3 linked regions of the Homo sapiens genome follow. The gene in region 2 interacts genetically with the main gene of each other region. Each region holds a gene or a part of one and is shown on either strand. Other genes may lie near its edges.

Region 1 (3,655 bases), on a different chromosome or scaffold from region 2:
ATATCCAAGGCTATATGCTGCCGCTGCTGCTGCTGATGATAGTTAATTCATCTTACCCCATGTGCTTGCATGTCACTATGTTCCAAATGCTAACTCTAAAAAATATTAACCAAAAAGAAAGAAATAAAATCATTTACCTTGCAAACTTTAATTCTACAAAAGGGATATGTTGAGTGAAATTTCTCCATATATGTAAGATGTTCTCTATTGAGACTGTTACATCTTATTAAGTACTTGGATCTTATTTAAAAAAAAAAAAAAGGCTGGGCTTGGTGGCTCACACCTGTAATCCCAGCACTTTGGGAGGCTGAGGCGGGCGGATCACAAGGTCAGGAGTTCAAGACCAGCCTGACCAACATGGTGAAACCCCGTCTCTACTAAAAATACAAAAATTAGCCGGGTGTGGTGGTGCGTGCCTGTAACCCCAGCTATCCAGGAGGCTGAGGCAAGACAATCGCTTGAACCTGGGAGGTGGAGGTTGCAGTGAGCCAAGATCGCACCACTGCACTCCAGCCTGGACAACAGAGTGAGACTACATCTCAAAAAAAAAAACATAGGCCAGGCATAATGCCTCATACCTATAATCCCGACACTGGGAGGCTGAGGCAGGAAGATCGCTTGAGCCCAGAAGTTTGAGACCAACCTGGGCAACATAGTGAGACCCTGTCTCTACAAAAAAATTTTAAAATTTGCCAGGTGTGGTGCTGTGAGCCTGTAGTCCCAGCTACTTTGTGGGCTTGGGTGGGAAGATTCCTTCGGCCCCAGAGGTCGAGACTGCAGTGAGCTGTGATGACACCTCTGCTCTCCGGCCTGGGCAACAGAGCTGAGACCTTGTTCCAAAAAAAAAAAAAGAATATAAAAGAAATTCATGTATTTGTCACCTAGATTTAACAAATGTTAACAATTTGCTATTGCTTCTGGGTTTTTTTTGTGTGTGTGTATAGACAGGATTTCTCAATGTTGCCCAGGCTACTCTTGAACTCCTGGGCTTAAGCAATCCACCCACCGCAGCCTCCCAAAGTGCTGGGATTATAGATGTGAGCCCCAACGCCCGGCCTGCTGCTGAATCTTTTTTTTTTTTTTTTTTTTTGAGACAGAGTTTCGCTCTTGTCGCCCAGGCTAGAGTGCAATGGTGCGATCTCAGCTCACCGCAACTCTGCCTCCTGGGTTCAAGCGATTTTCCTGCCTCAGCCTCCCGAGTAGCTGGAATTACAGGCATGCACCACCATGCCCGGCTAATTTTGTATTTTTAGTAGAGACAGGGTTTCTCCATGTTGGTCAGGCTGGTCTTGAACTCCCGACCTCAGGTGATCCGCCCGCCTCGGCCTCCCAAAGTGCTGGGATTACAGGCGTGAGCCAGGGCGCCCAGCTGCTGAGTCTTAAAAAATAAAAACTTATAGATACATCTTGGTGTGTGGGGAGGTGGGAGGTTGTTGGTTTTTTTCTTTTGTTTTGTTTTTGTGACAGGGTCTCACTGTGTCACCGAGGCTGGAGTACAGTGGCAGAGTCTTGGCTTACTGTAGCCTCACCTCCCAGGTCCAAGCGATCTTCCAACCTCAGCCTCCCGAGTAGCTGGAACCACAGACATGCACCACCACACCCAGCTAATTTTTTAAAAAATCATTTTGTAGAGATAGTTATCTACCTATGTTGCACAGGCCAGTCTTGACCTCCTGGACTCAGGCAATCCATTTACCTTGTTCTCACAAAGTGCTAGGATTAGAGGCCTGAGCCACTGTGACTGGCCCAAGTCCTAAGTTTGATTCATAGTATTCTCATGCATGCTGTATCAATAAAAATAGGGATTTTTTGTTTTGTTTTTTGCATTTTATACTGTTTTTCAATTCTTGCTCTTTTTTTACCTTCCTTGGGAGATGTGATTTTTTCCCAGTGGAAAAATCTTGGACTGAAACTTTGCTTTTCTAGCTGCTAACTCAAATCCTCTCTCTTTTCACCTGGATCATAAATAAGATTTTAGTGTTCAAATTCTGAAGATGCTTACATGAATGTTATGAAGCAACTTCTAACAAAATATTATAGATATTAGTTCCTAGCTGGAATTACTTAATCAGGATTCTTTTCTAGATGCAGTTTCACATACAGCTGGGTACTCCAAGTGTACAGTTCCCATCAGCTCTAATATGGTGAGAAAAATGTGCTTATACTTCATCACTTTCCCAAAATACACACTAGTAAAAGGATACAAGGGCCAAAGCTCTGAAAAAGAACAAAGCAGTCTTTCTCAATAGCAGTACTGAAATTAGTAATTTGCTTACTGGTTCTGAATACTCTGACTAAAGATAGCATCTGTTTCAACTTGTTGGATACTAGCAAAAGCTTCATCAGGACAAGCTTCCAACGGATGGTGTAGAAAGGATATACAACTGACAGGTTGCTGAGTGGACAATAAGTGGCGAACCAACAACTGGCTCAGCACATTCATTGGGTAGTTTACTTACTTGAGCATGAGTCCAGGAGGCTCAAACTAGGTTACAAACTAAAGTGACTCACAATTTAGCAATCCATTTAGCCACCATTTGCATGTTAAAATGAGCCAGAAAACACAGTGCAATTAATTGACTTTTTGGTCAATAATTTTTGGTTAAAAAAGATCTTAAAATAACATTGCTAAAGAGAATATAGGAGATTTGCTAACATTTATTTTGGTTTTAAAATTAATGACATAAAGTTTAAAGGATTAGTTTTAAAGGGTCAAAATGTATTGTCTGTTACCTATAAATATTTTTACTGGTCTTTAGACATCAGATTGAACTGAATTGAATGTACAAAGATCTGGCTCAACTGTGCAAGATAAAACCTATTCCTCAGAACGATGTCTTTAATAGGCAAAACCAAATAAATTGTTTACTACTACCAGACACTTGTTTAAGCTTCTCAGCAACCCTATAGGTTTTATGTTACAGATGTAAAACTTAGGTATAGAGAGGTTAAGTAATTTGCCTAGAAATCATAGAGCTAAAAAGTGGTGAGCAGAATGGCTTTGAACGCTGATTCTACAGCTTATGGTCTAGGGTGGTCCAAGTCTGTTAGGTGGGCTAATGAGGATCACTAGATCTGGAGTCAGAAGACCTCAAACTGTATCCCACCTCTGCCATCTGTGTGATCTTAAGCCTACCTAAGGCACTAATTCTACTTCACAGGTTTGTGAGGCTTCAGTATGATCGTGAGTGTAAGTGGTAAGTGTTAAGAGATCTTTTCAACTGTAAAATATAATATGTCACCTTGGATGAGTAGCTGTCTTCTTTAAGCTTCATCTGTAAATTGAGGCTTATAACCACGGCATGATATGTGCTCGTTTTGAAGATGAAATAAGACAATGAATGTAAACCATATGATACATTAATGCACCGTGCCTGGACCACAGAATTCAATCCAAATGCTAGTTATTATTCAGCACGACACTTTTCTTTCTTCTGGCTCATGTAGGAAAATTTTAATAAACCTCTTGATGAATAGCCGTAGAGATGGGGTGAAAAACCCCCAGAGGACAGAGAATAGGTAAACTCTTTTTTCTTTTAATTATTTTCTTCCTAATTCCACTGTATAGACAGAAGGCTGAGGCCGGGGTGCTAGAGAACCTTGCCGTGCTGGAATTCACGTTGACGCCCCCACGGAGCTCTGCTGCAGAGCCCTC
Region 2 (3,655 bases):
CACACCAACACACCTGGCTAATTTTTGTATTTTTTTTTTTTTTTTTTTTTAGAGATAGGGTTTTGCCATGTTGCCCAGGCTGGTCTTGAACTCCTGGCCTCAAGCAATCCGCCCGCCTCAGCCTCCCCAAGTGCTGGGATTACAAGCGTGAGCCACTGCACCCAGCTCTGTATTTTCAAATTACTATTTTATATTGATGCTACATTACTGTCTTAGAAAAGCATAGAGATACTTTGCAAGTGACTGAAGATAGTATTGATAGAGATTTAAAATTTTTGAATACCAATCTCTTAATCTCTGAAGGAGTCAAATGAATATACTCATCCTTTACTGGATATTTTATAATAAATTGTATTTACTGACAGGCCTGTAAATAAAATCTAGTATTTTTGAGGCCTCAGGTAAAATAGAATTTTCATATTGATTAGGCTGTTCCAATGAATATTTTTTAATTAAAAATTAAATTGGTAGAGTGATTAAAAACATGTTATTTTCCTTCTTCAACTAGATTACAGATCTGCTTGATGTTGTACTAGACAGTTTCATCAAAACCAGTGCAACAGGTGGCTTGGGATCAATAAAAGCTGAGGTGATGGCAGATACTGCTGTAGCTTTGGCTTCTGGAAATGTGAAATTGGTTTCAAGCAAGGTAATCACTTTTCTTTTGCCTTCTGTACTATAGCATATCTGTTTTATCATCAGGAGGTTTTTTGTTTTGTAATTACTTTTAAATTAAACTGAACTTTTTTGTGCTAAAACTTTGAGTCCCATGTTTTTTTTTTTAAAAAAAAAAATCCTGCTTCTTTACAGGTTATTGGAAGGATGTGCAAAATAATTGACAAGACATGCTTATCTCCAACTCCTACTTTAGAACAACATCTTATGTGGGATGATATTGCTATTTTAGCACGCTACATGCTGATGCTGTCCTTCAACAATTCCCTTGATGTGGCAGCTCATCTTCCCTACCTCTTCCACGTTGTTACTTTCTTAGTAGCCACAGGTCCGCTCTCCCTTAGAGCTTCCACACATGGACTGGTCATTAATATCATTCACTCTCTGTGTACTTGTTCACAGCTTCATTTTAGTGGTAAGTTCTAGGAAAGGAATTTGTGTTTACCAGTTCCTTTCTCCATTTTACTTCACCTGATCAATATAGATTATCTTATTTATGTTTGTGCTCTAACACCAAGTTGCTAATTTAAGCCTCCAGTAATGACATGAAATATTACCAAAAAGAAAATAAATTACTTCCATTCCATATCAAGCTATAGTAAAGATTTTCTATGCATACTTGTCATGTAGAGTTATCCCATAAGCGGAATACTCAGTGCCAGTTGACCATGTTCAGTTACCAGCACTAATTTGTAGATAAATGAAGCAAGGAGCATTAATACAATGTATCTAGAGGTTTGATTTAGGGAACATGATTATGTAATTTTTATATGGTATTCAAATTTTCTAAATTCAAAATGAAACATGGAACTTTAGAAATTAAAAAGTAATATTTTCTGTCTTTACTTGTTCCTTTATTCTCTTACAGAAGAGACCAAGCAAGTTTTGAGACTCAGTCTGACAGAGTTCTCATTACCCAAATTTTACTTGCTGTTTGGCATTAGCAAAGTCAAGTCAGCTGCTGTCATTGCCTTCCGTTCCAGTTACCGGGACAGGTCATTCTCTCCTGGCTCCTATGAGAGAGAGACTTTTGCTTTGACATCCTTGGAAACAGTCACAGAAGCTTTGTTGGAGATCATGGAGGTATAGAAGCCAAAATGATAAGAAACTAAGTTAAAATCTTTTTTTAAAAATATGTTAATACTATATAGAAGAAATATTGGTTTATTGTGCTATTTTGTACTTAATGCTTAAATAAAAACACTTGCATGGACTGTGTTATTGGTAACAGGTCACTTAATGACATCATAATAAACATTATTTAAACAGTTCTAAAAACATTTATGTACAATATGTATTCAGAGTATCCCCTTTTTTAGGCATGCATGAGAGATATTCCAACGTGCAAGTGGCTGGACCAGTGGACAGAACTAGCTCAAAGGTATGTCCTAAATTAAATATAAGTTGTAAAAATATGCATATTGTTGAAAATACAGCTATTACTGTATGATCAATGTTATAATTTATTATTTAGTATATATAAACACAAAGGTTTTTATAAGTTCTGTGGATCTTTTAATTGCAGATTTGCATTCCAATATAATCCATCCCTGCAACCAAGAGCTCTTGTTGTCTTTGGGTGTATTAGCAAACGAGTGTCTCATGGGCAGATAAAGCAGATAATCCGTATTCTTAGCAAGGTACCTGTTCCGCCCTCACTTCTCCCAAATATTTATGGTTCTCAAGTTGTAAAGCATATCTTTCATTTTTCTAAAAGACGTTTAAATTTGAGGTCAATGAAATATCTTATATGTTACTTATTAAGCCTTTAAAATGTATTTTGATTATTTATTGTAATTCTTTGAAGAAGTCTTCTCTAAAGAAGCTGTCTTTATATGTAAACTCTGATTACTTCATTAAGGAAGATGTCTTTAAAATAAAATATGTTGCCTCTTTTGCTAAGCAGGTACACTTAGTATTTTACCAGTTTTCAAAGCATTTAATTATATGGTAAGACTATAGCCTTGCATAAAATTATTTAATTTGTAATTACTATAATAATGTCTGACTCTTATAATGTAGAAATGTCAAAAAATAAGAAAACAAATGTACATTAAGCTAGCTACCAAGATCACCATAGCATGAGAAATCATTCTAGCATTTATTAAATAAGTAAATGTTCCTGAATTCATTCCGAGATTCAGTTTAGGAGTTAATGTTTTATTTCAATGAAAGTAAAATAAAAAATTCTGTTTTCCTAAAAGGCACTTGAGAGTTGCTTAAAAGGACCTGACACTTACAACAGTCAAGTTCTGATAGAAGCTACAGTAATAGCACTAACCAAATTACAGCCACTTCTTAATAAGGTAATTACTGTATAGAAAATGAGTGCATTCATTTTGGGTATCAGTGTTGAATGTTACTTTCTTTCAAAGAGTTTAGAAAATAAGATGAATTGAGAATAAGTTATAAAGAAAAAACTATAGTTAAAGTAGAACCTCTTAAAGTTTAGTTGTTTGAAGTAGTCATATTAGAAGAAGAGTAAGTATGGATAGTATGTTCTCAAGCGCTTGTAAGTTTTTGGTCTCATCAGTGCTAAAGGAAAGATAGGTATATATTCTTAATTATTTTATCTTATAACTATTAATTATCTGCTATTGCCAAGTACTGTTTTAGGCGCTAGAGATAGAGTACTAACAAAGCCCATAAAACTCACTGCCTTCATGGAGCTTACTTTCTGGGGTGGGTGTGGAGGTTGGGGAGTGAATGGATAATGAAGTAAACAAAATACGTAGTATGTTAGTGATTATTACTATGGAGAAATTAAAGCTGGGAGAAGTATACTTGATCGTCATAAGAGTTTGGGTGCCAAATGAAGATTATATTTAAAAGGAGTAAAATGAAGTGGCCACTGTTTTAGGATGGTCTGACCTTATCCCATTTTTATATTTAAGATATCTGGAAATCATGTTTTTGTATTAATAAAATGAAAAAGATTCGATAATGGCATGGTATTACCATCCAGTTCTAAAGTGGTTTA
Region 3 (3,655 bases), on a different chromosome or scaffold from region 2:
CTCTTGTTGCGCAAATTGGAGTGCAGTGGCACGATCTCGGCTCACTGCAGCCTCCGCCTCCCAGGTTCAAGCAATTCTCCTGCCTCAGCCTTCCGAGTAGCTGGAATTACAGGCACATGCCACCAGTCTTGGCTAATTTTTTTTGTATTTTTAGTAGAGACGGGGTTTTGCTGTGTTAGCCAGGCTGGTCTCGAACTCCTGTCCTCAAGTGATCCGCCTGCCTCGGCCTCCCAAAGTGCTAGGATTACAGGCTTAAACCACTGTGCCCGGCTGATATGGTCCCATTTGTCTTTGAGTGCTTCCTTACTTTTGGCACAAAAAAGATGGAAATTCACTTTGTACTTTCTTCTGGACCTGGTATCAGTCATTTCTTAAAAAACCTTTTGTCCTTTTAATGGGGAATGGCATTTAGAAACCAAATCTGGGGCCGGGTATAGTGGCTTACACCTATAATCCCAGCACTTTGGGAGGCCAAGGCTGGTGGATCACTTGCAGTCAGGAGTCCGAGACCAGCCTGGCTAACATGGTGAACCCTGTTTCTACTAAAAATACAAAAATAAGCCAGGCATCATGGCAGGCGCTTGTAGCCCCAGCTACTCAGGAGGCTGAGGTGAGAGAACCACTTAAACCCAGGAGGTGGAGGTTGCAGTGAGCCGAGATTGTGCCAGTACACTCCATCCAGCCTGGGTGAAAGGGCAAGATTCTTATCTCAAAAAAAAAAAAAGGAAACCAAGTCTGGGTTCAGGGAGTGCTCATTCCTACTGGAGTGTTATTGTGTCTAGTTTCTATTCATGGGCACAACTAGAATATATGTATTATTTCAATCATTTGTTGATACTGATATTTCAAACTAAAATTTAACATACCCAGGACTTCTTTTTTTTTAATTTTTTTTAATAGTCTTAAGGGAGACTTTGCTTTATCTCTTTGATTGAATATTTGTCTCTCTTTTTCACTGCAAACTTTGGTTTCTACTAACATTAATTAACATTAATTTATAGGTTTCTTATCTATTTTATTCTATTCCAAATTATTTTTTATTCTCTAACTTCTCATTACCAATTCAGCATCAAATGTTGACTTTTAAAATCACTCTTTCATTCATTTCTTCTTTGAGAAGGTGCCAAATGCTTGTCAAATTAAAGAAAAGATACAGTCTCTGTCCTTTTAAATTCAAGGCTAACCTTTTTCAAGGAGCGCAGTGTTTTGTGTGATGATCTCTGGCACTGCCTTGATGTGTGAAATGTTTCTTTGCTTTGGATTTCTACTTCCAGGGGTTTGTTGCATCGGACCAGTGTCCCTAAGGAAGTAGTTGATTATATCATCTTTGGTACAGTTATTCAGGAAGTGAAAACAAGCAATGTGGCTAGAGAGGTGAGTAAAACAAACTTTATGTTGTTTAAAGAGTGATAGGAGAATCACTTTGAATTTCAATTAATAGAAGTTACTTTACAAAAGCCTTTAAAATCTATTGAGTTACATTTGACCTAAAATGTGATTTTACAGCTTGGGTAATGTGTTATTTAATATGTAAAAGAATTCTAATATAAATCAAATGACATACACTATATTAGTGTATATCCATACTTTACTGTAAATCAAATAAATTATTTGAGCTGGTTTAGGACATTGTCTCTTGTGTTAGGAAAATAGAGATCAGCAAAGTGTGGCTGATAGTATTTTTAGTAATGTTAGATATCATGGCTTCCAATTAATTTAAAATTTCAACATGTTGCAGAGAACTAATTTCATAACTTGACTTTTGTTAGCTGGAAGTAGCCTTGCTTACTCATTTGTTCCCATCAACTAGATGGCACGTAAGGCAGCTTGGCTTTTTAAAAACTATTTCACAGGAGTTTACTTTTGCCCTAGTTGGCATAGCTCCATGTAGTGTCGATTGGGCAACCAAGATAATGACAGGCCTTGGAACTTCTAGGATGTGTCCTACAGGCAAATCCAAACACGTCTTCTGGGCTGTGTTTTCATTTAAAATCGATTGGATGAAGTTGGCACCAAAAGCACATTTCATTGTACTCAGTATTTTCCCTAGTTCTGGTCTGTGCTTGCCATATTGTTGGGTTCAGTATCACTGTCAACTGAGAGACAAGGGCACATGAGCAGGACTGAAAGTATTTGTTCTGTTCCACCTCTGTACCTGGCAGAAATGTTAGAACTGCCAAAGGCCTGGCATGACTGAAGCCTACGAAACTAACTGTGTGCTGTTGAGGGGCAGGAAGGAATTAACAATAGGAAGAGATTTTATTTCCCTTCTGAAATTTTTTGTTTTTCCTTGAACCTTGACATTTCTGAATGTTTCAAATATGATAATTTCATGAGTACATCAAGCTGCTCATAATACATTTTCAACTTTTATATTCTGAAAATAACCTATTACTTTTATAAGAGCACTTAAGATGTAAATAGTAAATTTTTTTGCTGTTTTCTCCTCTTGCTCAGCTTTTTATCCCATCCTTTCTTCCTTCTCCTCCTCCTCAAAAAATAAAAAAATAAATAAATAAAAATAAATGTTTCCATTTTCTCTGTAATTCAGTTCTTTTTTTCCTAAAACTAAAGCCATAATGTTTTCCTCTGAAATTTTTCCTGGAAATTTTACATCCATTTGCAGATCTCAGCTATTGATTGACAGGAGGTAGATTCCCTCTGCCTGCCCTGTACTAATACCAGTTATGTTGTGCTCCAGGTAATTTTTGCAGCATCTGCAGGGAGAGATTGGGTTGAGGGGGATACATTATGAGAATGTCACTCTAAAGCTGTATTGCAACCTAAAAGCTAACATAATTTCCAGCCAAAGAATTTCTTAGGCCCTATTGCCTGTATTAATAATGTTAATATACAGTCCTTGCAACCTAAAAGCTAACATAATTTTCAGCCAAAGAGTTTCTTAGGCCCTATTGCCTGTATTAATAATGTTAATATACAGTCCTAAAAGGCTCCTGGTGTTCATGAACCTGACTTTGTTGAAAGGTTCAGCATATTTCCCTGTTCTCCAGCTTAAAGACATCTTCCTCCTTTTCCCTTAGTGCCCTGAGAGCTATTCAAATTTCAATAGAAGTGTGTGGACAAGGGTCACCAATAGCCACCTCTATTTAAAGCTCCTTCCGTCCTGAGAGTCATCTAGGGCCAAGGGCAACACAAATTAGAAAGGCCCTTGTGAGAATCGAGCCATTGCAACCTAAGTGCCCCTTTTACACTTGCCCTTTGCAGAGCTCTTCCCTCCTGCCCCCCTGAGATACTTGCGTCTCTCTTCCTTTCGGATTGGTTTACGTTGAGAGGCTGATGCACAGGTGCCTGGCAGAAGTTCTCAACAAAGCAGGTTGGGCATTTAGTATCAGGCCTACCTGGAAAGACCAGAATGAGGTCATGTTGCAGTTACATCACTAACACATTTCTGTTTCTATAGATTATGGTAAATAGCATAAAAGTAAGTAAGTATAAAGGTAAAAATCAGTTAAGAGACATTGAATTTCTAATTGAGACTTTGGAAACATTTATTTTACTAAATTATAGGAGAGTGTGTTCTGAGGATAATTAATAGTTTCAGGGAAAGAATACTAAAAATGAATTCCCTATAATGGGATCCAGTATTTCATAGTAAATATTGTGTGGGTGTGTATGTGGGAGGAAATCTGGAAGC

Evidence for each region.
Region 1: changes in NF1 (region 2) and NDUFC1 together harm fitness more than expected from each alone (negative genetic interaction), as found in Homo sapiens cells (one large-scale study listed by BioGRID).
Region 3: changes in NF1 (region 2) and HADHB together harm fitness more than expected from each alone (negative genetic interaction), as found in Homo sapiens cells (one large-scale study listed by BioGRID).

What each region holds. Positions count from the first base shown.
Region 1 is NC_000004.12:139,295,874-139,299,528, reverse strand, and holds part of NDUFC1 (NADH dehydrogenase [ubiquinone] 1 subunit C1, mitochondrial precursor), read left to right. Parts: intron 1-2,085; 5' UTR 2,086-2,144; intron 2,145-3,161; exon of another isoform or gene 3,162-3,197; intron 3,198-3,568; 5' UTR 3,569-3,655. UniProt on the Homo sapiens protein: Accessory subunit of the mitochondrial membrane respiratory chain NADH dehydrogenase (Complex I), that is believed not to be involved in catalysis. Complex I functions in the transfer of electrons from NADH to the respiratory chain.
Region 2 is NC_000017.11:31,335,825-31,339,479, forward strand, and holds part of NF1 (neurofibromin), read left to right. Parts: intron 1-508; coding exon 509-649; intron 650-810; coding exon 811-1,090; intron 1,091-1,543; coding exon 1,544-1,758; intron 1,759-1,994; coding exon 1,995-2,056; intron 2,057-2,200; coding exon 2,201-2,315; intron 2,316-2,879; coding exon 2,880-2,981; intron 2,982-3,655. UniProt on the Homo sapiens protein: Stimulates the GTPase activity of Ras. NF1 shows greater affinity for Ras GAP, but lower specific activity. May be a regulator of Ras activity.
Region 3 is NC_000002.12:26,272,377-26,276,031, forward strand, and holds part of HADHB (trifunctional enzyme subunit beta, mitochondrial isoform 1 precursor), read left to right. Parts: intron 1-1,274; coding exon 1,275-1,374; intron 1,375-3,655. UniProt on the Homo sapiens protein: Mitochondrial trifunctional enzyme catalyzes the last three of the four reactions of the mitochondrial beta-oxidation pathway.